Linked DNA regions of Homo sapiens. The protein of the gene in region 1 purifies or fractionates together with the protein of each later gene. This does not show direct contact. Each region holds a gene or a part of one and is shown on either strand. Other genes may lie near its edges. The genes, in order: IWS1 and SUPT5H.

Region 1 (15,093 bases):
GCCACCACGCCCGGCCTTTGCACTGCTTCATTTAATGCAACCGTACTCTTTTAACATCCCATTACTTCTAAAAAAAAATGTTTAATGAGAAAACAAAATGTCTTCTTAAAAGCCATTTTAAACAGGCAAAAGAACATTAATACAGAACTCAACACTTATACACAGTACAACTGGCACTCTTGAAGTACTAGTGGTTTAGCAAATTACCATAACCTTCCTGGAGAGGAATTTCTATGAAGAGCCTTAAAATGTCTTAGTCTCTAATCTCGTTAATTCTCCTGGCAGCTTTCTAAGGAAACAATAAAAAATGATCACAAATGTTTATGTACAAAAATCTTCAGGGCAGCTTCAGTTATTTAATACAATAGCTAAACAGCATAAATGACAACAATTAGAAAATTGCTGAATAAGTGATGCTGCATCCATATTGTGAAACCATTAAACATTACGCTTATTGAGAATCTTTAATGACGTGGGGAAACACTTAAAAGTATCATCTTAAGTGAAGAGATAAAAAATAATACATAGGCTGGGCACAGTGGCTCACACCTGTAATTCCAGCACTTTGGGAGGCCAAGGCCGGTGGATTACAAGGTCAGGAGTTTGAGACCAGCCTGGCCAACATGGTGAAACCCTGTCTCTACTAAAAATACTAAAAATTAGGCGTGGTAGCGCACTGTAATCCCAGCTACTCTGGAGGCTGAGGCAGGAGAATTGCTTGAACCTGGGAGGCGGAGGTTGCAGTGAGCCAAGATCATGCCACTGCACTCCAGCCTGGGACAGAGTGAGACTCTGTCTCAAAATATATACATAGAAAGACACAAAATATATATAATAACATCTCAAGTAAAGTTAAAATATATAGACGTCATATACCTGGGACAGAATGAAACTGCAGGATAAATAATGTGAAAAGGCTCATAGTCATTTCTGTAGTTGGACTATGCTGGTTTTAATTTTTTTCTTTAAACTTCACAGATGCAGGAGTGCCTCAACTTATTATGGGGTTACAGCCTGATACACCCATAGTAAGCTGAAAATATAATTAAGCCAAAAACGCATTTCATACATCTAATCTACCAAACATCACAGCTTAGCCTAGCCTACCTTAGATGTGCTCCAAACACTTACAGAGGTAAGACCTACGGTTGGACAAAATCACCCAACACAAAACCTATTTTATAATAGAATGTTGAGTATCTCATGTAATTTACTGAATACAGTGAAAAAACAGAACGGTTGTATGGGTACTCAAAGTATACATACAGCACTTGCAACATCGCAAAGTTGAAAATTTTTAAGTCAAATTATAGTTTAAGTCTGGGACAGTCTGTGATTTCCAAATTTTCAAAAACAGCCACACTTATTTATTTAGAATCCATATTATAAAAAAACAAAGATGCTTAGGGTAACCTGAACTTGTAACTGCACCATGAGGCCATGAGATGACTACCCTACTGGGCTCTAAACTGACCATGATTAATCTCTGAATGCTGTTTCCAAAGAGGAAACTTAAAATATCATGCACTAAATGCACTGGCTGTAACAACATATACATTATTAAGTAACTTCCAACTATCAATTAAAATATTGGAATTTATTCTGAATGTTTAAAAGCACAGAAAAAACCTGAGTGACATCAAAATATATAAAAGATGAGCCTTTTCCACACCCGCATTTAGTTCTCTGACCTCCCCTACCCCTTAATGACCCCATTTCAGTTCCACTGGCTCCTTGAAGATATCAAGCACACTCTCACCTTGGGGTCTTTGCCAGGGATGTTCTTCCCCTAAACGTCCATATCCACACGGCTATTCCTTTGCCTCCCTTCACACCTTGGTTCAAATGTCACTTTCTTAATAAAAGACCTATATGGTCCCTATTTAACACCAAAGCCTGCCCTCCATCCTTTGTTCTAATTATCTGTTTTCTTCACAGCATTTGTTATCTTCTAGCAGACTACACAATTAAAAAAAAATGTTTATTGCTTAATGTCTTTCTCCTCCTACTGGAAAAACAAACCTAAGAAGAGAAGGATTTTAACTTCTAGTCACTGATAAGTCCAAAGCACCTGCAAAAAGTCTGACACATATTAGGTGCTCAATAAATACCTGTTGAATGTATGATATGCTAATGTTGCTGTCAAAGGACAGAGTCAATATAATCTCTAATCACACCTACTAAAAATTGGACAATTTTCTGCATATGTGTAATCAAGAAAAATATAAGGCATAGAAAGTTCTTAAATCTTTGCATCTTTATCATTCCTATTTGTTTCAGTCGTATCTACCAAAGACTTACGGCGAACTTATTGAAAAATTTCCCAATTTTATCTTGTTAACATGATGTATAAACAGAAAGGAAAATAAAGCAGTTCTGAAATATTTATGTATTAGAGCAAATACGTTAAAATGTACACAAAACCCAATACTATTACATATTATTAAACAAAAACAGCTCTTAAAATTATATTTGCAGGCCAGGTGTGGTGGCTCACGCCTGTAATCCTAGCACTTTGAGAGGCTGAGGTGGGCAGATCACTTGAGGTCAGGAGTTTGAGATCAGCCTGGCCAACATGGTGAAACCCCATCTCTACCAAGAAAACAAAAATAGCTGGACGTGGTGGCCTGTGCCTGTAGTCCCAGCTACTCGGGAGGCTATGAGGTGGGAGGATAGCTTGAGCCCAGAGGCAGAGGCTGCAGTGAGCCGAGGTCTCACCACTGTACTCCAGCCTGTGTTACAGAGTCAGACCCTGTCTCAAAAAAAAAAGCATTATTATTACATACATTATATACACCGTAACAGTTCAAAATCAGAAGGGCAAATGCTGACATAAATGTTGACAGGTGATAACCCCCATAACTTTCTATTTCAAGTGGTGTTTCTTCAGATTGCAAATGCTCAATGCCCCACTATGACATTATTGCAGAATAGGGAAACTTAGTCAAATATCAAAGGCCGGGCCCATTTTCTGAATCAATATGCACAGTTGAAAACTGCCTAACATTTGAAATGTGACCCAATCAGAACATATTTCACTGTGATTTCAACAGTAACCAGACCATCCCTATTTATTTTTCAAGCGGTTTTCTATTAACTTATGCTCCTTTACTCTCAGAGATTAAACCCTAAACTCTGTCACAGAGATTCTGTAACTCCTATAATATAACAGATCTCACAGAACGCAAGGGAAAAGCCCTCCCAAAGATGTTGGTTAGCCAATACCTCTGAATGACGTTCTACACTTCCAGTGTCTGATCCGGAGTGTTGCTCATTTACATCATCCTCACCGTCTGACCCTGAATCCCGTTCATCCTGTACTGGGGTAGCACCACCATCATCTGATTAAAAACAAAACAAAAACCAACTTATGGTGTAAGATGAATGACATCTACAGTGAAATGAACACACTGAATCAAGAATAACGTAAGTGCAAAAGTTACCACTGAGGAAGCATTAACTAAAGTTGCTAATATTTTGAATAAGGTAATACAATACTCATACAAACACCAACAAGCATAACATGTACTGTGAAATACGTGGCAGCAAAACTACACCATAAAAACAATTTGTAGCTTAAGAAACAACACTAAACACCAAGTCAACAATTTATTTCAACTTCATGTTAAAATTGGGTCTTTCTCTCCATGGCATTTATCACCTTCTAATATACTACCTGAAGTTATTTTGTTTAACGTGGGTCTTCTTCACCTGAAAGAAAATGCCACAAGAATAGGGATTTTGGTTCACTGCTAAATCTCTGGAGCCCAGAACACTGCCTAGTACCTGATATACAGTAAGTATTTGTTTACAAATGAAGAACACAAGGAACTCCAGTCCAAAACTAGTGAAAATCCATTCAAGAAAAGCATATATAAAATGGTAAATACAAACTGTTACCTAACTTTCTTTTATATTTTTGTAGAGATGGGGTCTTGCTATGTTGCCCAGGCTGGTCTCAAACTCCTGGCCTCAAGCAATCCTCCTGCCTTTGCCTCCTAAAGTGCTGGGATTACACCCAGCCCCAATACTTTAAAAAATACAGAGTAAAATCGTATTTTAACCTATATACATGTATTACATATAATTACTTTTTTTTTTTTTGGAGACACAGTTTTGCTCTTTTGGCCCAGGCTGGAGTGCAATGGTGTGATCTCAGCTCACTGCAACCTCCACCCCCCCGGGTTCAACAAGTGATTCTCCTGCCTCAGCCTCCTGAGTAGCTGGGATTACAGGTGCCCGCCACCACGCCTGGCTAATTTTTTGTATTTTTAGTAGAGATGGGCTTCACCACGTTGGCCAGGCTGGTCTCAAACTCCTGACCTCAGGTGTTTGCCACCGTGCTCGGTCTACTTTTTAAAAAGTAACTTAAAAACACAAATGAATGGAAAAAAAACTATTCTGAAAGTATCAGGAAAGTGTTTTTTTGTTTTTGTTTTTGTTTTTGTTTTTTTTGAGACAGAGTCTTGCTCTGTCGCCCAGGCTTGGAGTGCAGTGGTGCAACTTCCGCTCACTGCAACCTCTGCCTCCCGGGCTCAGGGCTCAAAGGATCCTCCCACTTCAGCCTCCTGAGTAACTGGGACTACAGGTGTATGCCACCACACTCGGCTAATTTTTGCATTTTTTTGTAGAGACGAAGTAGGGGGGTGGGGTAGGGGCGTAGGGGGGTGGGGTACGGGCATGGGGGGTGGGGGTGGTGTTGGTCTCACTATGTTGCCCAGGCTGGTCTCGAACTCCTGGGCTCAAGCCATCGGCCGCCTACGCCTCCCAAAGTGCTGGGATTACAGGCATAATCCACCGCACCTGGCTTAGGAAAGTGTTTTTAAGCAGTGCATGCCTGGAAAACGCTTTGCAGTCATTAGAATTCACTGTCCTACGTAAGGAAAAGCAATGAACTCAAAACAGTAAAGGGCTTAACGCTTAAACAATTATTTAAGCACTCAAGTTTTCTTTTTAATTTTCAATTTTTGTGGGTACATAGAGGGTGTATTTATTTATGGTGTATTTAAGAACTTTTGTAACAGAACGCCCCAACAGGACTAGCACACAAAGGGAAAGCAAATGCGACGTGTTTCCCACACCAGGTTCTGCCTCACTTATCCTTAATCTCAGGTGCCAAGCACCGTGCCAGCAGAGTGGGCCCCAGTAACAGCTTACAGAATAAACAAACAGTAAAGAAAGGAGACCAAACTTCGGTGAGGAGGAAGAGGAACGATCTCAAGGTGGAGGAAAGGCACAAAAACCACCAGTAAGTGCCAGAAGCGCATTCCTTACTCTATGCATGCAACTGAAACATGGGTCCTGCACTTACGTCCGGTGTTGCAAGCAAGATTAAACCACTCCTAACTAGCAGTGAAAAGTCTAGGAAGGATCCCCCGCCCCAACGCCCCTTGGATTCTCCAACTACTCAACTACTGAAAACTCTCTTAACAGAAGACACCTCTCCTTCCCTGCACACAATAGGAGCTTAACATATGAAAGTGACTTCCCAATTTCAGCAAAAACCTTCGCCGATTCAGAAGAAAGCTTTCCCACCAGAATCCCCTCTCCAACGTTCTAGCTTCGACGCTTGCAGCTGGTCAGAGGGCTCTTGCCCTCCTCGGGCCGGGTCGCGGGAGGGAAGGTTTCGGGGGGCCTCCTTGCCCCCACCCGCGGGGTGCCAGGCCAAGCCCCGCCGAGTAACTGCTCCGCCTCCCAGCCCGGTCCCCCAGGTCCCTGCCCCACCTGACTGGTCGCCGCTGTAATATTCCGAGTCCATGGCAGGCGGACTCTCAGCGGGGAGTGTCCGCGCCCCGCGCCGCCCCCGTCACCTCCTTCCAGGCGGTGTGACCCCGGATGGCGCGGCTAAGTGTTCAGAGACTGCCGCCCGACCGGAGAACTTAACGGGTGCGGAGGGTAAGAAAGCGGTAGCGGCAAAGGCGAATTCTTTGACCTGGAAGCCCCGGCGGAAAAGGCCGTACCCGGCAGGCTGGCGGGCGGGCAGGCATGCGAGCCGGCGTTCTACTTCCTAGAAGCACCGCTGGGGCCAAAATGGCGTCTGCCCACGACCCTCAAAGGAATGCAGCGCGCAGGCGCCGCAACCCGTCAACCGGCCAATGAGAAGACGCAACAGCAATGACGCCAGGCACGGCCGGAAAGGAGACTCCTGGGAAAATTGAGCTGGAACTCGGGCTTTAGTTAAATACCTTCCTCGGGTGGATCCTGGTCTGACCCCCGTGGTAATAACGTTATCATTGATTCTTTATCATTTCCTAGATTCTGTGTCCGTGCCTTGTTTGAAGAGCTTTTGAGATACTCTTCCGAAAAATGAAGACCTGCTCAAATGACTTTTCCGTCATTCAGCCAAACCACTGTCTTTCCCGTCAGGCCCAGAGGCGCCTGGTTCCCGCCCGCAGTAGGCAAGAAAGCGGGCGTTGCTCACTGGGACTTGTAGTATGACGCCCGCGAGCTGTGATGCGTTACTAACTGGCGCGATCCACAGCGCCTCCTCTCCCGGCGTCTTCCTCTCTTTCATTCTAAACAACGATTTAATTTCCTTGTTAAGAAGCCATTTAGCCAACAGTAAGAAGTACACGTCTTTGCTTCCAGAAGGGTTCCCCTGATGAAACACCGGAGGAAGGTGAAGTTGAACTTTACCTGAGCCCTGTGTTCCTGGAAAACAGCGGTGATTAAGAAACCCCCTCATCTATTTGTGTTTCTGGAACGGCACACTGTAAAGAACCACCCGTCTCCATGTGACTCAGATAAAACGCGTGCAGATGACCCCCTTGTTTGCCTGTGACAAGGCCAGAGACCTTTCCCCTTTATTCTGAGCCTGTTAATAAAGCCAAACAGACCTTCCAAATTCCCGCTGATGATATCGAGTGATTAGTTGAGATTAGAACTCTCCTCCCCCCAACTTGTTAGACACAGAGAACATTTCCTGTTCACCTGACTGAAACTTCTCCTGATTGCAAAACAATCCCAACTGTCAATCATCCCACCTTCCTCCCTATAAAAGTCAAAACTACGCTGCCAAGACACTGATCATATCTGGAGTGCTCTCCCTATTGCAATAGGCTGAGTAAAATCCATTTCCTTACTTGTTCATTTTAGTCTTGGACAGAGAGGGGAACATTCTTGCCTTTGGATCGGAGGAGGGCCAGTAGAGGTTTAAGCAAAGACTCCCCAGGAGGTGTAGACATGTAGAAAAAGAGCCTTTTGTTACTACTGCAGATATCTGACCCTTCGTTAGCCAGTCAGAGTATGCTGGCAGAGCCCAATTATAGGCTCCTGAAGAGGACGTGGGAAGAGAAGAAAGGGGAGAAGTGGTTTCTCTCTGGAAATTCCCATTTTCCTGCAAGAGAGTTCATGGATATTCCTTTCCGAAGTGGTGGAAACAGCATTGAATCCAAATTCCTTCTTTTCAGCTGTGGGAATGACATCTTCTCAGGCAGTCTTGAGAATCAAAAGAACAAAGAATTAGCAATGCCCGAAACCGAATCACTTGATAGAAGATATCAAGGCTCTAAGCCCTCTTCTAAAGAGAAGGTGAGAGTACACCTGTGTAAATGGAGCAGGATTAATAGATCAAAATTCCAGGCGGAGGTTCAGTGGAAGAGAACCTTTTAGTTTCACCAGAGATGTAAGTCCAACAGTCAGGAAAGTGGTTGGGTTATAAACAATGCAATTGCCGGATGAAAATTACTGAATTTTAGCGTTAAAACTAACTGTACTGGTGGTTTGGAGAAAGGATAGAAACACTCTGGACACACAACAATGTTCTTAGCTCTAGAAGCCTGCAAAGAAGCATCAGATCTAATTTTTGTACTCAGAAAGCCAACAATTTAGTGAGACAGGACAAGTCTTTCAAATGAATACAGAGCCTTAGTTAAAGCAGTGTGGTTGTCAGTGTAAACACAGCTTACGGAGAGTTCCCAGAGCTCCTTCCTACCAGCTGGCTGTCCCTCCTGGATCCTGGTAGAGAAATTCTGTAGTGGCACAGATGTGTCTTTCTGAGTCTTGGCTGCCTTACATTTTCAGGACTGCCATCTCCTTACCCATCACACCCCACCCCAGTACAGTTGGCCCATGGCGGTGGTAGGGAGGCACCCAGAAGATAGGCTGTTTCCCACACCAAGGGTGCTAATGACAGAAGAATGGAGAGGCAAACTTGCAGCAGTCCACAATGCTTCCTCCCTTAACAGATAACCCAGAGACGCTGCATTCCCTAAGTGAATGTAAGATTTATTTGGAGACACTCTGAAGACACTGCCATCTGCTGAACATGTCAGGGAGCAAGAGGCCGCATAATATAAATAGCCTGGCACCATCAGAGCTGTAGACTGGGGGCTTAGAGCCCTAGGCTGTGGGCCTATCGCTGGGCTTATTGTACTTAGTAAGCTGGGACAAGCTACCAGCCTTCTATGAGCCTCAGTTTCCACATGTATCAAATGAGAGGGTTGAATCAGGTTTCAAGTACTCTTAGCTTTTTTCTACGTCAGAGAATCCAGGTCTCTAAGTCTGACCCAGCTTCTTGTGCTTGAGCCACTAGCAAGCCCTACCAGGGAAGACACAAATGAAACTTACTAGCTGCGTGACCTTGAGCAAGTTGCTGAACCTCTCTGTGCTTCAACGTCCTCATCTATAAGTTGGGGATAACAGTACCATTTATGTCACAGAGTTGTCATGAAGCTAAATGCACATATATAATTATAATGTATAATATGTTATATATATTACTTGTATAATATTATACATGATATAAATATATATATTATATAATGATTCCTGGGACAGAATATTGTGAAATTAAATAATTCAAACTTTTTTTTTTTTTTTGAAATGGGATCTCGCTCTGTCACCCAGGCTGGAGTGCAGTGGCACAATCTTGGTTCGCTGCAACCTTCGCCTCTTGGGTTCACGCAATTCTCGTGCTTCAGCCTCCCTAGTAGCTGGGACTACAGGTGTGCACCACCACGCCTGGCTATTTTTTGTATTTTTAGTAGAGATGGGGTTTCACCATGTTGGCCAGGCTGGTCTTGAACTCCTGGCCTCAGGTGATCCACCCACCTCGGTCTCCCAAAGTGCTAGGATTACAGACGTGAACCACTGCACCCAGCCAAATAATTCAAACTTAAAGCTGTTGGAACTTAAATTGTTCTGAGTCTTGAGAGGAATGTGACTATGCAGCCTGAGTCACATGGCATGCAGCTGCAACTTCTGCCTTTTTTCCACCTATAAATAATTGAGACTAAGTGGTGCCAGAGATAAAACCCCCTCAGATCACTGCCCCTTCTACAGAGTAATAATGTCATCTTCCTTGGGATGCAGCAATCTGTAACCAATCAAATCACTGTAACATATGCACTGTCTTGTATGGAAAATGTTATAATCCTGCTAAAATTTTTCTGTCTGTCTCTGTATAAGTAAAACCTTAACTTCTTCACTTTGGAACGCTGAACCCATTCGTTTGGAGTTGAGGTCTCCTGGGTGGCTATCCGCACACTCAAATAAACTCTATGTGTAATCATATTTTATGCATCTTACTATTTAAGATTAGCAATATATATGTTAGCTATTATCATTATTATTAGGCATTGTGAAGATACAGAAAATTAACACATGATTCCTACCTTGAGAAGCTTACAATTCATTAGGAAGTACGGCTTTGAAAAAAGAAAATGCTAAGAGGTGAATTGTGTGATGTGGGTAACAAGTACCATGGGAATTAAAAGGAGGGTGAGGCTAGAGTGAACAATCAGGTTGGCTTCCTTGGGGGAGGGTGCTTGAGGTGATATTTGAAGGACAAAGGCCGATTTGGATGGAAAGATAATGTTTCAATCATGGTAAGCTAACAATCTACCATGTAGTTATGTTGTTATAACAACATCAACAAATTTCAGTGGCTTGACTTGATAATAGTTTGTTTCTTCCTCTTGTCAATGGGCAGTGGGGTCAGTGGTGAGGTGGAGGTTGCTCTCTGCTCCTAGCAGTCATTCAGGGATCCAGGCTCTTACCATATTGTGGCTCCACCATTTCCCAGGGCCTCAGAAGCCCCTACTGGATGCTCTGCATGCCACCAGCAGATGGGAGAAGAGAGTGTGTAGAAAGGTGCAGGATATTTTAGTGGGTCTAGCCTGGAGTTAGAGCATATCACTTACCCTCATTCCATGGCCCCTTCTAATTGTGAGTGAGGCAGGGAAGAGTATGTCCACTGTGGGACCAAGAGGAAAAGGAAAGTGATCTTGGTGGATATGCAGCATTCCAGGCAAGGTTAAGAAATCCACCCCAGTACTTCTTTTCCCAGAAATAAAGTTCTCAGCAATGAGCCTAAGAGCTAGGCAAAGTATCACTATCTTCCAAGAGCTAGGCAAAGTATTACTATCGTCATAATTAGCATCATTAACTTCATTTATTTAGTTTATTGAGTTGACACGTAAGCAAGTTTTGCTTTTCCTTGTCAGTATCTCAATCTCCCCCAGGGCAATAAGATTAGTCATCAGGATATGCCATTAACCCTGGTCATGGGACAGAGGTCCCATGTTTATGGCCAGTGACCTAGGTTTAAATGCTAGGGCCTAAGACAGATTTATCCACTGGATTGCCCAAAGCCCTCTAGAGAGGAGGAGGTGACCTTTTCATTTTGTGCCCCTACTTTCCCCCTCTTGCTGCCTTGGACAAATCTCTGGGTAGTTTCCTCAGAGGGCTTATGGTGACAAAAGCACCACCAGAAATGAGTCCTTTCCTCCTGGGCTGAGACTGTGGATGCCTAGCTGGCCCATCAGGACTTTGGATCCAAGACCTTCCCAGTCTAGGAGCAGCTATCTTGAAGCTGCTGTTCCCGGAGGATGAAGTACTTGAGTTTGCCTGATGACACAGTCATCTCCTTGGCATGTCAGAACCAAGATCCTCCAGGAAGCACTCATCTTCCATGCACCCTCCCTCTGAGCCATATCTTCCTGCCATTGAAGGAGCCCAAGGGTCAGGGTCACCTCTTCCGGGAGGACATTCGTTCTGGTCTTTGTTGGCCTCCTCTTTCTCCCAGCCTCCAATGGCACCTGGGCCTGTGAACTATATATTGGTTCCCAACTGGGACTTTGTCCCCCAGAGACATTTGGCAATAATATCTGAAGACATTTTGATTTGTCACCACTAGGGGTGGGGACATAACCAATGGCTGCTGCTAAATGTTCTGCAGTACACAGGACAACGCCTCTCATTCCCCAACAAAGAACAATCTACTCCAAAACGCTAATAATGCCAAGACTGAGAAACCCTGAACTACAGGACAGAATGTGCCCTGTGATCTACTGTCTTGTACTGTGCACAACTGTGTTTCCAGGGAAGCATTTAAGCGTTGCTTCTCTTCCCAGATATTCCCTTGCCCCAGCATCTCAGAAACCAAGGCAACAAAATGGGCAAGGCCTTTCAAACCCTGGGCTAGGGCCAGCAAGTTGGGGAAACACCTTTTTTTTTTTTAAATCTCTGAAGATAGGATGTCTCATGCATCACTGGGGTGAGGAAGGAGGAGGTCTGGTTTGTCTGAGGGTTGGCGTGGTATAATACATCCCAATAAGCCCAGGCCATGGGGTCAGGTACACCCTAATTCAAACCGCACCTCTGCCACTTTTGGTTGTGTGGCCTAAGCAAGTTTCATAACCTCTTTGACTTTAACTTCCTTGCTATGAAATGAGGAGAAGCACCCCTCATTTGTTGAGGTTTGATGAGGGTTGAGTGAGATGGTACAAGCAAAGAGCCCAGCACAGAGAAAATCCTTATCACATGCCAGCTCTTTCTGAGACTGAGAATTCAAAAATGTTCTAAAGAGTAGTTCAGTCGCAGAGGTCTGTGCTGCCAACCTTGCTGTTTCATAGGGTTAATGGATAATTTGGCTGCTGTAGCCTAGATGGGAATATTAGGGCCACCATAAGCAAGTGACTTCAGTTAGCTCTATGATATGCTGGTAGAGCTGAAGCGAAAGGCTTGCTCTGTGTCAGTCGCTGTGATGACGCTATAATGGGCTTGGTCACTGACAGGAATGGAATGAACCATAGGTTGTCCATGGGCGCATTTCAGCTCAGCTCACAAACATGTTTTTCAAGGTTAGCTGAATATTTGCGTCTTGGGAAATGAGCACTACGCTAATTGTGGAAGTAGCACTGGGCTGGGAGACAGCCAAGCCTGGTCGCCCGTGTTACCAGGAAGAGCCTGCCCTGCCTTTCCCCAACCCATCTTCTTGATTTCCAGGGCTTGGGGTCCCTTGGCTATGGAAAGCCTGAGGCTCCAGGAGAACCATGCCTCAGGGTGTCCCCCTTTGCACCAACTCACACAGCAATCAGACCAGGTCCTTGCAATCATAGGCGCAGTTTTGACTGGGAGGGAGGACTTGGCATGCCACTTGAGAAATATTAGCAACCAAAAATTCATGCCCACTGTTCTTCCATAGTGGAAGATCTTCTTCCAGAGATCCCACTGGAATCTTCCATAATGACAAAATGCAAACAACGCTGAGAGCACAGATATGTTCATTGCAGTATTGTGTGTGACAGCAAAGGATTGGGTACCTCCCAGGGTCCATCCAGGGAGGATGGGTATACAAATGATGGGGCACTTGTGTGACATACTGTCACGCTGTTTCTAAAGACCAATGGTAAAAGTTTGGTACAGTGTCAGAAAGTTCTTGTGATATAATGTGTAACATAAAATAGAGAGAGACAGAGAATAGCAGGTCAGTATCTAAAATGTGTTTCTGTCAAATTTTGCATAAGGTGAGAACTGGATGGGAACATCTTACAGATTGTTTTGGTCCACACAGATTTTCTGTCCCAATATTTTCTTACATGAGGGCAGTAGAAAAGGTCCGAAGAGGACTCAGTCTCAGCCCCAGAGCAAGGGGTTCACCATCTCTGGGAGCTGCCAGGAGCAGCAGCGTCAGCCCTAGAGGAGCTAAATGGTATCTTTCTAAACCCGAGAAACCATGTGCAGCATGAAGCTCAAAAAGGCTGAGTGTGGACCCAGAAACCGAACCAAATTTTAGGGAGCAGGAGGCTAGTCAGAGCAAGGGCAGAACTTGGGGGGCTGTTCTAGGGGGAACAGGCGGGACAGGGGGCCGCCTGAAAGACTCGGAACATGCAGCTCCCTCCAAGTGGTCCTTCAAGGGATCTCCCAGCTTGGTTCCCTGTCTTTGGGATGGGCCATTTGGTTTTAAGATACAGAAACTCCTTCAAGCCATGTCAACAAAGAGAACATTTAATAGACGGAAACTGGGGACTCCATGGAGCCCACCCACAGGAGGCACAGGAAACCCTGAGGCATCGGGGGTCTCCTCCTGTCTCTGGAGCCACTGGGTCTCCACCTCTGCAGCTTGTCCACCTCTCCTTTTCTCTCCCACCACCGCTTGGTCTGTGTCCCCACGAAAGGTCCATGTTCAGGGTTGCCACCCTGCCTTGACCTCAGTTCTAAAAGACGATGGCTCATTCCCACATTTCTGCCTGCAGTTCCCAAGTCCCTCCAAGTCCAAGGAAAAGAAAGGAATCTGATTGGCTCTAGTTGGGCCAACTGTAAGGATGACCAGACCCCTTTTTTACCCAACACAAGGCCTGTGGCTGACCAGGTAACTACCTGCCCCTATTATCCACCCGCCTTCAAAGCCTTGCATAAATGAGCTCCCCTCGCCCTCCTGCTCACTTCCAGGGACTGCCTGGCCCCTCCAGTCTGACCCCACCCAGGGCCCACTGCGGTTGCACTTCCCTTCTAAACAGTCTGTATTTGCCTTAAGCCCAAATCCCCCTTGATCAAGTGCCAGCCCAAGCCTGCCCAATTTGTTGCCAGGTACCCTCCTGGGAACCTTGTTGTCTGATGGCCTTTGTCTCTAAGGCTTCCTGATGGCCCCAGACATGTCCCAGGTGTATGCTCCTTTCACACTCAACACAGAACACTCTCTTGACCAGGTGTCCAAGCAGTTCTCCAGCAGACTCCGTCTGGATGTCCTATAATTCAATTCAATCAGACACTGTCAACCTGGAGTCATAGATCCCACAGGTTAAGGGCTCAGTCCCACAAAACTGCCCCACTTCAAATGCAGTCTCAAGTCCTAGGTTGCCACCTATACTTCTGACCAATTGGCTATAAATCGGGGTTCCCATGCCCCACACCTGAGGTTGGATTTGCTAGCATAGCTCATGGAACTCAGGACGGCACTCATATTGACCAGTTCGTGGGAAAAGATTTTACAAAGGATTACAGATGAGCAGCCGAATAAACACGCACAGGTGAGTTGTGTGGGAAGGTCATGGAGCTTCCATGCCCTCTCCCGCATGCCACCCCCCAGGGACCTCAGATGTGTGGAAGCTTGTCAAATCTTGTTCAAGAGTTTTACCTTCCCAGAGGTCAGTAGGCGGGGCTGAAAGTTCCAACCCTCTATTCACTAGGTCTTTCTGGTGACTGACCCCATGCTGAGGCTAGGTAGGGCCCCCACATGGTCACCTCCTCAGCATAACTTCAGGTGTTATCAAACGGACTCATTATGAGATGATCACTTGGGAAATTTTTTGTTTGTTTGTTTGTTTGAGACGGAGTCTCGCTCTGTCACCCAGGCTGGAGTGCAGTGGCCCGATCTTGGCTCACTGCAAGCTCCACCTCCCCGGTTCACGCCATTCTCCTTCCTCAACCTCCAGCTGGGACTACAGGCGCCCGCCACCACGCCCAGCTAATTTTTTTGTGTGTGTGTTTTTAGTAGAGATGGGGTTTCACCGTGTTAGCCAGGATGGTCTTGATCTCCTGACCTTGTGATCCGCCTGCCTCGGCCTCCCAAAATGCTGGGATTACAGGCGTGAGCCACCATGCCCGACGATCACTTTGGAAATTCTAAGGGTTTTAGGAGTTCTGTGACACCAACCGGGAACAAGGACCAAATATACTGTATTTTATATTATACTACCACCCTCAATTAGAGCTTGGGGTGCTTGGGGGCAGAGCTCCTGCCATGCAGCACCTGGGAAGATGCTGAGCCCCCGGATGGTCAGCTGACTGTCACCATGGGATCTGGCTGGTGGCCAGAGCAGGTGCACAGACTGCAAACCCTGGTGGCCTCCGGGCAGCATGCATCGCTGC
Region 2 (15,230 bases), on another chromosome or scaffold:
AGAAACCAGGCTGCTGACCACTCCCAAAAGTCCCACGCTAGCTTGTCTGTCCCCTCAACTCTGGCACTGAGTAGCCACTGCCTGCTTGGTATCTCCACCTGGATGTCTAAAGGTCCCTCAAATCCAGGACGACCGCAGCCAAACCGCTGATTCCCCCAAACCTGCCGCCTCCCACTCCATTCTTCCCTCTGCTCAGGCACACAACCTGGGAGCCACTCTTGACTCCTTTGTTTCTCTTACACCCACACCCGACCCGTTGGCAAATTCCATCAGCTCTGCCTTCAAAATACCTGACCTCTTCCCCTCCTCCACTGCAGTCTCAGCATTCCAAATCCAAAAACCCAAAATGCTCAAAAATAGGAAACCCTGTGAGCACCAACATGATGCTCGAAGGAAATGCTCACTCTTGGATTTTCAGATTTGGGATGCTCAACCGGTAAGTATAATGCAAATATTCCAAAAGCTGAAAAAATCTGAAATCTGAAAAACACCTGTGGTCTCAAGAATTCAGGTTAGAGACACTCAACGTGTATTAGGGTCTTGGTCCTATCCCACCAGCACTGCCATCTGGGTGGGATGTGCTACAGCAGCAGCCTCCTCCCTGGTCTCCACGCTCTTGCCCATGGCCCCCTCCAGGCTATTCCCGGGTTTCTCAGCCTTGGCACTATTGACTTTTTGGGCCAGGTAATTTTTTGTTGTGGGCAGCCATCCTGTGCATTGGAGGATGTGTGTGTCTAGCATTTCTGGCTTTAACCTGCTAGATGCCATAATCGTCAACCCCCTCCCCAGCTGACATAACCAAAAATGTCTCCAGACGTTACCAAATGTCCCCTGGGGAAACATCACCCTGGCTTGAGAACCAGTGGTCTAGTCTCAACACAGTCACCAGAGAAATCTTATTAACATTGAAGTCTGCCTGTGTCCCTTACAGCCCTCCCATCCTACGCCAGTAAACACCAAAGCTCTCCAATGGGCCGCAGGCCCTCGTGAGCTCCCTAACTCATCTCACGCCATCCCTGCTGTAGCCAGTGACTGTGCCATCCTATCTCACAGGCCACTCCTGCTGCCTACAACACTCCTCCCCAAGAGCTCCACATGCCTCACGCCCTCCGATCCTTCAGACCTTTACTCAACACGCCTGGGAATGTGCACAGAAGACAGCCAACCGTTTCCTGTGTGCTCACAAAACCCAGGCTCTGCTTCAACTCATCTGAGTGGGATTCTATTCTCTGCAGCACAAAGAGGGTGGGAAGGACAAAAGGAAAGGAAGGGAGAACAGAATGGAGGGACCCTGACCCCCATGCCACCCCGCCCCGGGCACCTGAGCAATGTCATCCTTGTAGATGCCCCGCTTGAGGCGGACCCAGGACTTTGGTTTCAGGTTGGCCACCTCCTTCACCACTTTGAGCACGTCTGTCATCTCCTTGATGGGCACCATCTGCTGGTTCCAGTAGCCAAGCCGCAGGTTGCCCACCCCCTCAATGGCCTGCTTCACGTGGGTCTGCTTGTAGGCCTCCACGTAGATGTAGCCCTTCACATGCTCTGGTGCCACTACTGACTTGATCTGCAGGGGCTGCAGGGTGAGCCGGTGGAAGGAGGAAACAGTGAGACACAACGGCTAATAACAGAAATGACTGCCACTCATCAGCAGTCCCTCTTCTAGGAATTTATTCCACAGAAACACACTGGCACAATGACATGGACACAAAGGTGTTCCCTGCAGAATTATTTATCACAGCAAACAAACCAGACTAAAAATTTTAAAAATATCCAGAAACAGTAACTAGTTAACTTATGGCTTAATGTACCATGAAATACAATGTTGCAGTTAAAGAATACAAAAACTAGCTGGGTGTGATGGCACATGCCTGTAGTCCCAGCTACTCAGGAGGCTGAGCAGGGAGGACTGCTTGAGCCCGGGAGGTTGAGGCTGCAGTGAGCTGAGATCGCACCACTGCACTCCAGCCTGGGCAACAGAGTGAAACCCTGTCTCTTAAAAATAAAAAATAAAATAAAAATTAGATTAACCTGTATGTACTAATATAGAAAGCTATCCAACATATGTTCTGTGTAAAAAAGCAACTAGAGCCGGGCACGGTGGCTCATGCTTGTAATCCCAGCACTTTGGGAGGCCGAGGCGGGTGGATCACTTGGGGTCAAGAGTTCAAGACCAGCCTGACCAACACGGAGAAACCCTGTCTCTACTAAAAATATCCAAGATTAGCCGGGTGTGGTGGCACATGCCTGTCATCCCAGCTACACGGGAGGCTGAGGCAGAAGAGTCGCTTGAACCCGGGAGGTGGAGGTTGCGGTAAGCTGAGATCGCACCATTGCACTCCAGTCTGGGCAATAAGAGCAAAACTCCGTCTCAAAAAAAAAAAAAAAGCAACTAGAAGAAGAACCAAGAAAGGAGTGCTTACATCAGACAAAATATACTTTAAGACAAAAATTGCTACCAGAGACAACAAAAAACATTTTGTAACAATAAAAAGGTCAATCCATCAGGAAGATAGAATTACAAATGTATATGAAACTAACAGAGCCTCAAAATACATGAAGCAGAAACTAATGAAAATGAAGGAAGAAACTGACAACTCAACAGTAACAATCACTGACTGCAATACCCTGCTTTCAATCATGGATAGAGCTAGACCCAAGATCAACAAGGAAAGAGAACACTTGAGCAACACTGTAAGCCACCTAAACCTAATAGCCAGCTATAGACAGAACATTTCGTCTTCACTTTCCACTTATTAAGCGGAAATGGGAAAAAAGAACACTCCATCTAACAACAGCAGAATGCACTTTCTTCTCAAGGGCATATTAAACTTTCCAGAATAAACCACAGGTTAGGCCATAAAACACGTCTCAGTAAACATAAAAGAACTAAAATCATATAAAGTATATTCTCCATCCATATGTAATGAAGTTAAAAACCAACAGAAAGATACTTAGGAAATTCACAAATACATGGCAACACACTCCTAGATACCAAAACTTATGAGATTTGAAAAAAGCCATGCTTAGAAGTAAATGTATAGCTGTAAATACCAACTAAAAGAAAAAAAAGGCCAGGAGCGGTGGCTCATGCCTGTAATCCCAGCACTTTGGGAGGCCGAGGCAGGAGGATCACTTGAGGTCGGGAGTTCAATACCAGCCTGGCCAACATGGTGAAACCTTGCCTCTACTAAAAATACAAAAATTAAGGCCGGTTGGCCAGGCGCAGTGGGTTCATGCCTGTAATCCCAGCACTTTGGGAGGCTGAGGGGTGGATCATCTGAGGTCAGGAGTTCAAGGTCAGCCTGGCCAACATGGTGAAACCCCATCTCTACTAAAAATACCAAAAAAAAAAAAAAAAAAAAAATTAGCTGGGCATGGTGGTGGGTGCCTGTAATCCCAGCTACTTGGGAGGCTGAGGCAGGAGAATCGCTTGAACCCGGGAGGTGCAGGTTGCGGTGAGCCGAGATCGCATCATTGCACTCCAGCCTGGGCAACGGTGCGAGACTCTGTCTCAAAAAAAAAAAAAAAAAAGAAAATTAAGGCTGGGCACAGTGGCTCACGCCTGTAATCCCAACACTTTGGGAGGCCGAGGTGGGCCGATCACCTGAGGTCAGGAGTTCGAGACCAGCCTGGCCAACATGCTGAAACCCTATCTCTACTAAAAACACAAAAATTAGCCAGGCGTGGTGTCGGGTGCCTGTAATCCCAGCTACTTGGGAGATTGAGACAGGAGAATCAGTTGAGCCTGGGAGGCAGTGGTTGCAGTGGGCCAAGACTGCACCATTACATTCTAGCCTGGGCAAGAAGAGTAAAACTCCATCTCAAAAAAACAAACAAAAAAATGAAGTCTTGATATATGCTACAATATGGATGAGTCTTGAAAACATTAAGTGAAGCAAGTCAGTCACGAAAGGCGACATATTGTATGATTCCCTTTGTATGAACCATTCAGAGTTCCAATAGTCAAATCCACAGAGAAAGAAGGTAGATTCATAGTTACCAGGAGCTGTGAGGAGGGAGGAATGGGGAGTGATGACTAATGGGTATCGGTTTATTTTTGGGATAATGAAAATGTCCTGGAATTAGATGGTGATGATGGTTATGAATACACTACAATATATAAAATCCACCACAGTTTACACTTTAAAAAAATTAAATTTTAGGCTGGGCACAGTGGCTCAGAACTGCCATCCCAGCACTTTGGGAGGCCAAGGCGGGTGGATCACTTGAGCCAGGAGTTCAAGACCAGGCTGGCCAACATGGTGAAACCCCGTCTCTATTAAAAATACAAAAAAATCAGCCGGGCATGGTGGCGGATGCCTATAATCCCAGCTACTCGGGAGGCTGAGGCAGAGGTTGCAGTGAGCCGAGACCACACCATTGCACTCCAGCCTGGGCAACAAGAGTGAAACTCCGTCTCAAAAAAAAATAATAATCAGAGACATAACTCAAATGAAGTAACTAGAATTTTACCCCAGGGTACCATGTAGGAGGATTTGAGCACACTTCTTTTAATTATTATTATTATTATTTTTTTTTTTTTTTTTTTGAGACAGTCTCGCTCTGTTGCCCAGGCTGGAGTGCAGTGGCACGAGCTTGGCTCACTACAACCTCCAACTCCTGGGTTCAAGCAATTCTCCTGTCTCAGCCTCCCAAGTAGCTGGGATTATAGACATGCACCACCACCCCTGGCTAATCTTTTGTATTTTTGGTAGAGACGGAGTTTCACCATGCTGGTGAAGCTGGTCTCGAACTCTTAACCTCAGGTGATCCACACGCCTCAGTCTCCCAAAGTGCTGGGATTACAGGCGTGAGCCACCGCGCCCGGCCTATTATTATTTTCTTTGTAGAAATCAGTTGTCACTATGTCACTATGATGTCCAGGCTGGCCTCGAACTCCTTTTGCCTCAGCCTCCCAAAATACTGGTATTACAGACATTAGCCACCACACCTAGCCAAAAGGTACCTTTTCAACCTCCCTGTTGGGGAATCATACCCCACAAATCCCAATCTCACCCATGACAGGCAGGGACACTTATTACTATAATAATGAGGAAGACATTCCACCCCCTACCCACCCCGAGACGGAGTCTCACTCTGTCGCCCAGGCTGGAGTGCAATAGCGCAGTCTTGGCTCACTGTAACCTCTGCCTCCTAGATTCAAGTGATTCTCCTGCCTCAGCCTCCCAAGTAGCTGGGATTACAGTCAAGCACCACCATGCCCAGCTGATTTTTGTATTTTTGGTAGGGACAAGGTTTCACCATGTTGGCCAGGCTGGTCTCAAACTGGCTGGTTTCGAACTCCTAACCTCGTGATCCACCCACCTCAGCCTCCCTAAGTGCTGGAGATTCAGGCATGAGCCACCATGGCCGGCCTTTGAGGAGGACATTTGAGCACATTTAAAAGCATAGTTTGCAAACCCTACAACTGTCTACTTGGTCCCACTGGGTCACACCCAGTGGCTGGACAGGTGAAAGCATGATCCCTAGCAGGGATCATGTTAACTGAGAAAGTTACCAGCCAGCACCCTTCATAGCGTTTGCCCTGGTTCCCAAACTGCCAATGAAGCCTTTGACAACAGCTCTGCTAAGTAAATGCAAGCTGCAGAACAAGTCCTAGCTGAGAGCTGGACATAAAGCCACCTAATCCTTTTTTTTGTCACACTGGAGTGCAGTGATGCGATCTCGGCTCACCGCAACTTCTGCCTCCTGGGTTCAAGTGATTCTGCCTCAGCTTCCCAAGTAGCTGGGACTACAGGTGTGCACCACCACGCCCAGCTGAGTTTTGTATTTTTAGTAGAGACGGGGTTTCACCACGTTGGCCAGGCTGGTCTCAAACTCCTGACCTCAAGTGATCTGCCTGCCTCAGCCTTCCAGAGTGCTGGTATTACAGGTGAATGCCACTGCACCCAGCCAAAAGCCACTTAATCCTAATGATGCTGAGAGGCAACCAAGGGGCCCAGAGAGGGGAAGTAGGTGCATCAGAGTCACACAGCTAAGAAGTGGCAAGGGCAGGACTCAAACTCTGTCAGTCTAAAGAAAGACCTGGGCCTTGGATGCAGCATTTGCTGCCTGGCATGTGGTGAAGTGGGTGACCCCAGCCCAACAGGGCTGGTGAACAGGCAAACCCACTCTCATGAAGAAAAGGTGCAGGAAGCTAGCTGGCTGACTTCCAAAGGGCTACAAGGGTGGGAAGACCCTGCCATAAATGCAGAGAACAAAGACAACATATCCATCTAGGCCGAGAAGAGCCCTTCCATCTAGGCAGTGGTCTTATTCCAGCTCAAGCAGCTCACTCAGCAGGCAGCTCTGCTCACAACAGAGGCACCTGGTACCCCTGAAGTTGACAATGTTCTTCCCTCTGGGTGTTGCCATGTCTCCCCACCAAGCCGCCTGTCTACCCGACTTACCGTGTCTGTGAACTGGTAGGCAATGAACTTGCGCATCAAGGAAATGGCCGTGGCCCGTTCCTCCCCAATCTGGAAGATGAGAGGCAGATTTGAGAGAGATGACAGGATGGAGGAAAGGACACAGGAAAGGGGGAAGGAGACAGCAGCAAGAAAAATAAAGTAGGACCAAGAGAGGAGAGAGAAAGAAGGATGGACAGCCAGGAAGATGGAGGTGGGAGATAGCCAGTCAGTAACGTGGAGTGAGGGATGGAGACAGAAGGACCAAGTGACTGGCAGGCCACGGAGACCCGGGACAGACAGACACTTCTCCCCCACAAAGCAGCCTCCCTCATTCTCCCACCTCCTCCAAGCCCCGAGATCAGAGCACATACCTTACATTTGACAGTCCACAGATTGGGATCCCTAAGCAGCAGAGGAAAAGGAAGGCCTTCAGTGAAGCTGGATCTTCAGTAACAAACAGACGAACCCCCAGGGCCACCCCCTTCCTCTGGTTTCACATCCAGGTTCCCTCACACTCACTGACTTCCCCACGCTTCTACCCAGGAGCAAGAGGAAAGAGAAAGTGCCACCTTGCCCTCCCTACCCCTGCCATCCACCACACTGCCTGTGTGACTCTGCCCTGACTTATTTCAGGGAGCCACCTGTCTAGGCACCATCACCCCATACAAGATTCGCACCCCAGCACGGCCCCCACCATCCCAACCCCCTTACTTGACTCCTGGGAGCAGCTGCTGCTGGGTGATGTCGTCTGAGAGCTCATCAGATCCTCCATACACCCTGAAGGGAGGAGGGCAGTCAGGAAGGGGTGAAGCTCTGTCAGATCCCCGCCCCTTCCCGCTTAGGGACCACCTGCTCCCTGCCCCCACCTGCCCCCACCATGCCCTTACGTCTCTCCCACAGATGACTTGGCGTATTTCTTCATGTAATACTCGCCCAGTTCTTCTTCTCGCTGGTCCCTGGAGCACGAGTGGGGAAGCAAACACGAATTGAAGGTTGAGGACAGCAGGTGGGCTGACCTACTCCCAAATCTCCCCACAGGAGCCAATCCCACCACGTTTCCCTTCCTTGCCCACCTCCAGAGGTTTTGCAGGCGGCGAGCCCCAGAACGATCTTCATCCAGGACAACATTATCGATATTGGAGGCTGAAAAATAATGGGCAGAGGGCGTGAGCAAGGGCAGGTGGAGGGCAGGGGCCTGGAGAAAATAGGAGCGTGCAGCTAAGAGGGCCAGGGTTTGGCCCTGGGGCAGGAAGATGACATCTCACAGAGGAAATCCCAACCCCTCATCCCCTACTCTGTCCTACTCAGCATCCTGCTTCTTGTCAAAAAGACTGGGGATGGGGCCCAGCAAGTTGGGGGGCTTCCAGCTGTTCCCATCTCAAAGTCCAGGCACACCCTGGACTGCACCCCACCCCACACATCGCTACCACCCACAAATGCTCAGTCCCAGACAGACACATCCGTGCTTTCCCAGGTCAACAACTGGGGTATACCTGGCCCCAGAACTCCCTGACTCTGGATCCTACATGGGTCAGAGCCCTCAGGGCCAGACCGGGGCTGGTGGGGAGGCTACCGGTGAGGGCAGGTGCCTCAGGAAGGAGGAAATGTCAGGATATGGGAGGAAGGTCAGGGAATCACACTTTTCATATTCTTACCTTCAATCTCTTCTACTTGGAGGAAGAGGAGGTGGTGGTGGTGGTGGTGGTGGTGGTGGTGGTGGTGGTGGTGGGCGAGGGCAGACAAAGTATGAGCCAAATTATAGCAGCAAAATCAACCAATGGGTTGGGGGAGGGGAAGGGAGGGACACAGAAAGGTTGAAAACCAAAAGTAAAGGCCAGGCACCAGGTGGTTGGGGAGAAGCCGAAATGTATGAGGCGCACAGAACGGAAAATAACGGGGAAAGGGGGGCACTGGCCCAGGAAGTGGGGGGTATCTTGGGACAGAGCTCGCCCACCCTACAACCCCAGAAGGGATTCACTGGGCCCTGGGATCCCAGAGTCCTCTCCCCACAACATCCCCACCCCAGGGCCCCACCCCCCACTCATGGGCCTAAAAGGAAAAAGCAGGGAGCTGGTCTCTCTGGGAAGGACAGAAAGAAGCAAGGTGAGGACGGTGGGAGTTGGGGTGTACAGGGGATGCGGGGGTCGGGGGAATGGGCTCTGAAGACCCTCTCAGCCACCCTCTTCCCAGTAGTCTTGTGGAGGCAGGGCTCACACACACCTTTCTCTAGAATGTCCTCTGCTCCATCCTCCCACTGGTCCTCGTCCTCATACTCATCGTCAACATCTAAAACGGAAAGGCCAAGTGGTAAGTGGCAAAGGTGACCTCATAACAGCTCCCAGGACACGAAGCATCTCCTCTGGGAGATGTGCACTACAAATCCCCACCGCACAGAGCAGGACACTGAGGCTCCAACAGGGAGGCACTCGTCTGGGGCCGTGCCACAGAGCTGGTGCACGCATCAGGATCGAGGGGGACATACAGCTCCAACTAACTCTAAAAGTCATCCCCTCTCCTTACTCCACTCCCAAATCCCTTTTAAAAAACTAAGATCAAAGTAAGCAAAAAGAAAAGTTCCCTCCCAACTATCAGAAAATGATCAATAAATAGTTTTTTAAAAGATGGTTCATGGTCTGTTGGTTTTATGATTCTTGTACATTTATAACAGCTAATGCTGAGAGCATACTATACACCCTGCCCTGTTCTGAGTACCTGACACAGGTTCCTCACTGATCTTCCTGGCAACCCCGAGGGAGGCACTATCGTTGTTCCTATTTTACAGCAAAGGCTCTGAGACCCAGAGAGATTAAGGAACTTGCCCACAGACTCAGCTGGGATCTGAGAGAGGCAGTCTGGCTCCATGGTCCATGTACTTAATCTCTTTACCATGTTGGATGTACTGCTTTGCAGGTATCAAACATTACACTAAAAACGTAATACATGCACATAATGAAAAACTCCAATGTCCATAGAGGATGTAAGTATCAATTAAGTCTCCCTCACATTTCTAACCCCTAGAATCTCAGTAACCTCTCCCAAAGGCAACTCCGTGACTAGTTTCTTGCCTAGAGATATCTGTGTACATATATGAAATCCATGTAAGGCTGGACGTGGTGGCTCACACCTGTAATCTCAACACTTTGGGAGGCCGAAGTGGGAAGATCACTTGAGCCCAGGAGTTTGAAACCGGCCTGGGCAACATAGTGAGACCTCCTAAATCCAAAAACTTAAAAAATTAGTTAGGGTTGGGCACGGTGGCTCATGCCTGTAATCCCAGCACTTTGGGAGGCCGAGGCGGGTGGATCATGAGGACAGGAGCTCATGATCAGCCTGGCCAACATGGTGAAACCCCCGTCTCTACTAAAAATACAAAAAATTAGTCAGGTATGGTGGTGGGCGCCTGTAATCCCAGCTACTCGGGAGGCTGAGGCAGAGAATTGCTTGAACCCGGGAGGTGGAGGTTGCAGTGAGCCAAGATCACACCACTGCACTCCAGCCTGGGCAACAGAGGGAAACTCCGTCTCAAAAACAACAACAACAACAACAACAACAAAAAAAAACAGTCTAGTCAGGCCTGGTGATGCACACCTGTGGTCCCAGCTACTCAGGAGGCTGAGGTGAGAGGATCACTTGGACCTGGGAGGTAGAGGCTGCAGTGAGCCATGATCATGCCACTGAACTCCAGCCTAGGAAACGGAGTGAGATCCTGTCTTTAAAAAAAAAAAGAAAAAAGAAAAAAAAAAGGTCTGGGCACAATGGCTCATGCTTATAATCCCCGCACTTTGGGAGGCCGAGATGGGTGGACCACCTGAGGTCAGGAGTTCGAGACCAGCCTGGCCAACATGGTGAAACCCCGTCTCTACTAAAAACACAAAAATTAGTGGCACACGCCTATAATCCCAGCTACTCGGGAAGCTGAGACAGGAGAATCCCTTGAATCCGGGAGGCAGAGGTTGCAGTGAGCCGAGATCACACCACTGCACTCCAGGGTGGGCAAGAGAAACTCCGTCTTAAAAAAAAAAAAAAAAAAAAAAAGAAGAGGCGGGGCGCAGTGGTTCACGCCTGTAATCCCAGTACTTTGGGAGGCCAAGGTGGGTGGATCATGAGGTCAGGAGTTCGAGACCAGCCTGGCCAACATGGTGAAACCCTGTCTCTACTAAAAATACAAAAATTAGCTGGGCGTAGTGGCAGGCACCTGTAATCCCAGCTACTCGGGAAGCTGAGGCAGGAGAAGCACTTGAAACCAGAAGGTGGAGGTTGCAGTGAGCTGAGATTGCACCACTGCACCCCAGCCTGGGTGAAAAAGCGAAACTCCATCTCAAAAAAAAAAAAAGAAGAAAAGAAAAGAAATGCATGTAATCCACCCCGCCACCACTATGTTCCCCCCATGTAATTTTTTTTGTTTAGACCGAGTCTTGCTCTGTCACCCAAGCTAGAGTGCAGCAATCTCGGCTCACTGCAACCTCCACCTCCCGGGTTCAAGCAATTCTCCTGCCTCAGCCTCCCAAGTAGCTGGGATTACAGGCGCCCGCCACCACGCCCAGCTAATTTTTGTATTTTTAGTAGAGACAGGGTTTCGCCATCTTGGCCAGGCTGGTCTCGAACTCCTAACCTCAGATGATCCACCCGCCTCAGCCTCCTAAAGTGCTGGGATTACAAGCATGAGCCACCACGCCCAGCCCCCACGTAATTTTTTTAACACACCGTTCTGTACCTTTCTTTTTCTCAAAACTACTACTAACTCAGAGCTCTCCCACAGCAGCACATGCCTCATATACTATATGGCCCATAATTTGTTTAACCAGGCCCTAATCATCAATAAACATTTAGGTCACCAAACTTTTGCAACTGCGAACAGGACTACAACAAGCATCTTTGTTCTCAGGTCTTCATGCACTCATGCAAGTTTAACCATAAAGTAAATTCTAAAGAGGAACTGCTTGGTCAAAGGGTTCCTGCATGTTAAATGCTAACAGGCACTGCCACACAGCCTTCCACACAGGCAGTGCCCACCAACACTTCCACCACCAACATATGGGTGTCCCTGGGAACCCACAGCTTTTACCCAGCATGGTATCCATTCTCTTGCTCTCCAAGAACATCCAGAGCACCTCCTGTCCCTTTGACAATAAACTACTTTTCTTCTCAGGTAAAACAGTCCCAGGAAAACAGAGGCAGGATGTGTTCTAAGTAACCCCTCTTCCCATAGGTAAGGGAAAACATGCACATTCATTATCATCATGGAAGTATGAACTAGTCTTATCTTTTTAGGAACTGATATTTGGCCGTAAATATAAAAAATCTTTTTTTAAAAAAAGTGCGGCCAGGCATGGTGGCTCACGCCCGTAATCTCAGCACTTTGGGAGGCCAGGGCGGGCGGATCACAAGGTCAGGAGTTCGAGACCATCCTAACACAGTGAAACCCTGTCTCTACTAAAAATATAAAAAATTAGCCAGGCATGGTGGCACGTGCCCGTAGTCCCAGCTACTCAGGAGGCTGAGGCAGGAGAAACAGTTGAACCCAGGAGGGAGAGGTTGCAGTGAGCCATCGCACCACTGCACTCCAGCCTGAGCGAGACTCCGTCTCAAAAAAAAAAAAAAAAACAACGACAACAACAAAATGCACCACCTTTACCTAGCAATTTGACTAACAGGGATTTAACACGTAGAACAGAGATTTTTCATCTGGGGTGGTCTGTGTTCGATGAAAAAACTACAGCTCCTATTTTCAGTAACCTGGAATTGAAATTTAGCATTTACATCAATTACATACAATGGCAACAAACCACACAATGTTAGCTGTGTCACTGGCTCTTTCACAGCACATTACAGCTATAGGTATCTCAAGGCAGCATTTACACTCACTGCTACTTGAAAATTAGATTCTCAGACTACCTACAAAGTCTTATTACCTAAATATGTTAACAAAGAAACATATGCACCAAAATGTTCTTTTTAAATATTCTGATAACTGTACTTCAATAAATTGTCCTCTTTGGAATCCTATGTATTTTGTTTTATGCATTTCAGAAGATGATTCTGAGAAGGGAACAGGGTTTCACCAGACTACAGAAGGGGCCGTAGCACGAGAAAAGTTAAGAACTTTGGTCCTTCACGCCTGTAATCCCAGCATTTTGGGAGGCCAAGGCGGGCAGATCACGAGGTCAGGAGATTGAGACCACCCTGGCTAACAAGGTGAAACCCCGTCTCCACTAAAAAATAGAAAAAATTAGCCGGGCGTGGTGGCGGGCGCCTGTAGTCCCAGCTATTCAGGAGGCTGAGGCAGGAGAATGGCATGAACTTGCAGTGAGCCAAGTTCATGCTACTGCACTCCAGCCTGGGCGACAGAGCGAGACTCCGCCTCAAAAAAAGAAAAAGAAATGGAACTAAAAGTAGAAGCTCAGCCTCTGCTCGGCACTGGCCAAGCACTATGACATACCAGCCTCGTCCAGAATGAAGCCTCCATGGCGGGGTTTCTTGGGGGGTCGGTCATCATCTTCTTCCTCCTCTTCCTCATCGTATTCCTCCTCCTCTTCCTCCTCCTCTTCGTCCTCAGGCTCTTCTTCTTTCTCACTGCCCGCTGCACTCCGCCGCTCTTCGTCTACCTACAGGGGTCAGGCAGGGTTGTAGCACCAGAATTCTGCTACCCCAAAAATCCAAAAACCAAGTTCCTCACCCTAAATCTGACCTCAGATTGGCCTGGCCAATCATAGCCCACTTTGCTCTGCATATATCCCTTTCACTCTAGCCTGGCCTCTCTGGTTACCATCCTATCTCAGCGACAGCACTGCCATCTCCCCAGCCACCCAAGCAACCCTGGGAGTTGACCCGGGCTTCTCCCTGCACTAGACCTCTTGCTCACTTTCCACCGAGTCTTTAACTATAATAGCTTGATGAAGCTTGGTCCTTGGGCCTCATTTCTTTCTCTCTCTTTTTTTTTTTTTTTTTGAGACAGAGTCCCACTCTGTCTCCCAGGCTAGAGTGCCATGGCAGAATCTTGGCTCACTGCAACCTCCACCTCCTGGGTTCAAGCAATTCTCTTGCCTCAGCCTCCTGAGTAGCTGAGATTACAGGTGTGCGCCACCACACCTGGCTAATTTTTGTATTTTTTTAGTAGACACGTGGCTTCACCATGTTGGCCAGGCTGGTCTCGAACTCTTGACCTCAGGTGATCCATCCGCCTCTGCCTCCGAAAATGCTGGGATTACAGGTGTGAGCCACAGCACCTGGCCCATCTCTTCCCATTCTACAACTCCCCAAGGCCATCTCGTCCTCTCCCTTGGCGGTGGTGGACATCTCTGTGACAGTGACTCCCATCTCTGTTTCTAGTCCACACTGCTCACGAAGATCACTGGCCACCCCTGTTGCTAATTCTGTGGCCATTCTGTATTCCCTACCATCCCAGCAGCATCTGGCACCCCAACCATGCCCTCCCTGGAGAAATGCTCCTCTCTTGGCTTCTGCCGTATCATGCTCTCCTGGTTTTTCTCAAAACTCCACCAGCTCCTCTTCAAGCTCCTCTTACTGTTAACCCCTTCAAATCTGACATCAATTACCAGGGCTCAGTCCAGGGCCACTTTGTTCTCCCTCCATGCCCTCTCTCCCTGTCCATTTTACTTTCCATGACCTCAGTTCCTGTCTCTAGAGATGACACGTGTCCTCATCTGTCTATAGAGTCCCACTTTTTTCCAGAACTCAAGACCTCCATGCACCAGCAGCATCCTGGATGCCTCCCCTAGATGGCCTCTGAGCCCTTTCATACTCACTGTGTCCCAAACTGACCTCAGTGTCTTCCCCTAGACCTGTGATGGCCTCCTCCAATTACCGACAGGCACCAAATCCTCATCCTTTCTGCCTGTAAACATCATTTCTCCAACCCATCCTTTTCCCCCAGCCCCATATATCTGAGCCTAGGCCAGGACACTGCCCTCTAACACCTGGATCCTTACCCCAGCCTCCTCCCTACTCTCCTGGCCTCTAATCCCTCTTTCCATACCAGAAACAACATTAATGGATGCATACCAAACTTCAGTCTTTAACTCATGAACTTCACGACTTCTTCCATGTCATTACTACAATCCATTTACCTAATACAGGTTGAACATCCCTAATCCAAAAATCTGAAATCTGGTCAGGTGCAGTGGCTCATGCCTGTAATCCCAACACTTTAGGAGGCCAAAGCGGGTGGATCACCTGACATCAGGAGTACAAGACCCGCCTAGCCAATGTGGTGAAACCCCGTCTTTACTAAAAATACAAAAGCTAGCCCAGCACGGTGGTGGGCACCTGTACTCCCAGCTACTCAGGAGGCTGAGGTAGGAGAATCGCTTGAAACTGGGAGGTGAAGGTTGCACTCAGCCGAGATTGTACCACTGCACTCCAGCCTGGCCAATGGACCAAGACACTGTCAAAAAAACAAACAAACAAAAAACTGAAATCTGAAAGGCTTCAAAATCTGAAACTTTTTCAGCACTGACATAATGCTCAAAGGTCATGCTCAGGCTGGGCGCGGTGGCTCGCGCGGATCACCTGAGGTCAGGAGTTCAAGACCAGCCTGGCCAACATAGTGAAACCCCATCTCTACTAAAAATACAAAAAAAAAAAAACCTAGCCAGGCATGGTGGCACGCCTGTAGTCCCAACTACTTGGGAGGCTGAGGCAGGAGGATTGTTTGAACCTGGGAGGCACAGGTTGCAGTGAGCCAAGATCGCACCACTGCACTCCAGCCTAGGCGACACAGCAAGACTCTGTCTCAAAAAAAAAAAAAAAAAAAGGTCATGCTCAAAGTAAATGTTCACTGGAGCATTCTGGATTTTCAGA

What was found.
Region 2: the proteins of IWS1 (region 1) and SUPT5H purify together in Homo sapiens (affinity purification with mass spectrometry; 2 studies listed by BioGRID and IntAct, with this or other methods). This does not show direct contact.

What each region holds. Positions count from the first base shown.
Region 1 is NC_000002.12:127,520,451-127,535,543, forward strand, and holds the start of IWS1 (protein IWS1 homolog), read right to left. Parts: upstream 6,040-15,093; 5' UTR 5,759-6,039; coding exon 5,725-5,758; intron 3,342-5,724; coding exon 3,226-3,341; intron 1-3,225.
Region 2 is NC_000019.10:39,451,141-39,466,370, reverse strand, and holds part of SUPT5H (transcription elongation factor SPT5), read right to left. Parts: intron 13,016-15,230; coding exon 12,850-13,015; intron 8,697-12,849; coding exon 8,631-8,696; intron 8,078-8,630; coding exon 8,066-8,077; intron 7,554-8,065; coding exon 7,484-7,553; intron 7,367-7,483; coding exon 7,298-7,366; intron 7,188-7,297; coding exon 7,122-7,187; intron 6,813-7,121; coding exon 6,782-6,812; intron 6,480-6,781; coding exon 6,411-6,479; intron 1,574-6,410; coding exon 1,322-1,573; intron 1-1,321. UniProt on the Homo sapiens protein: Component of the DRB sensitivity-inducing factor complex (DSIF complex), which regulates mRNA processing and transcription elongation by RNA polymerase II.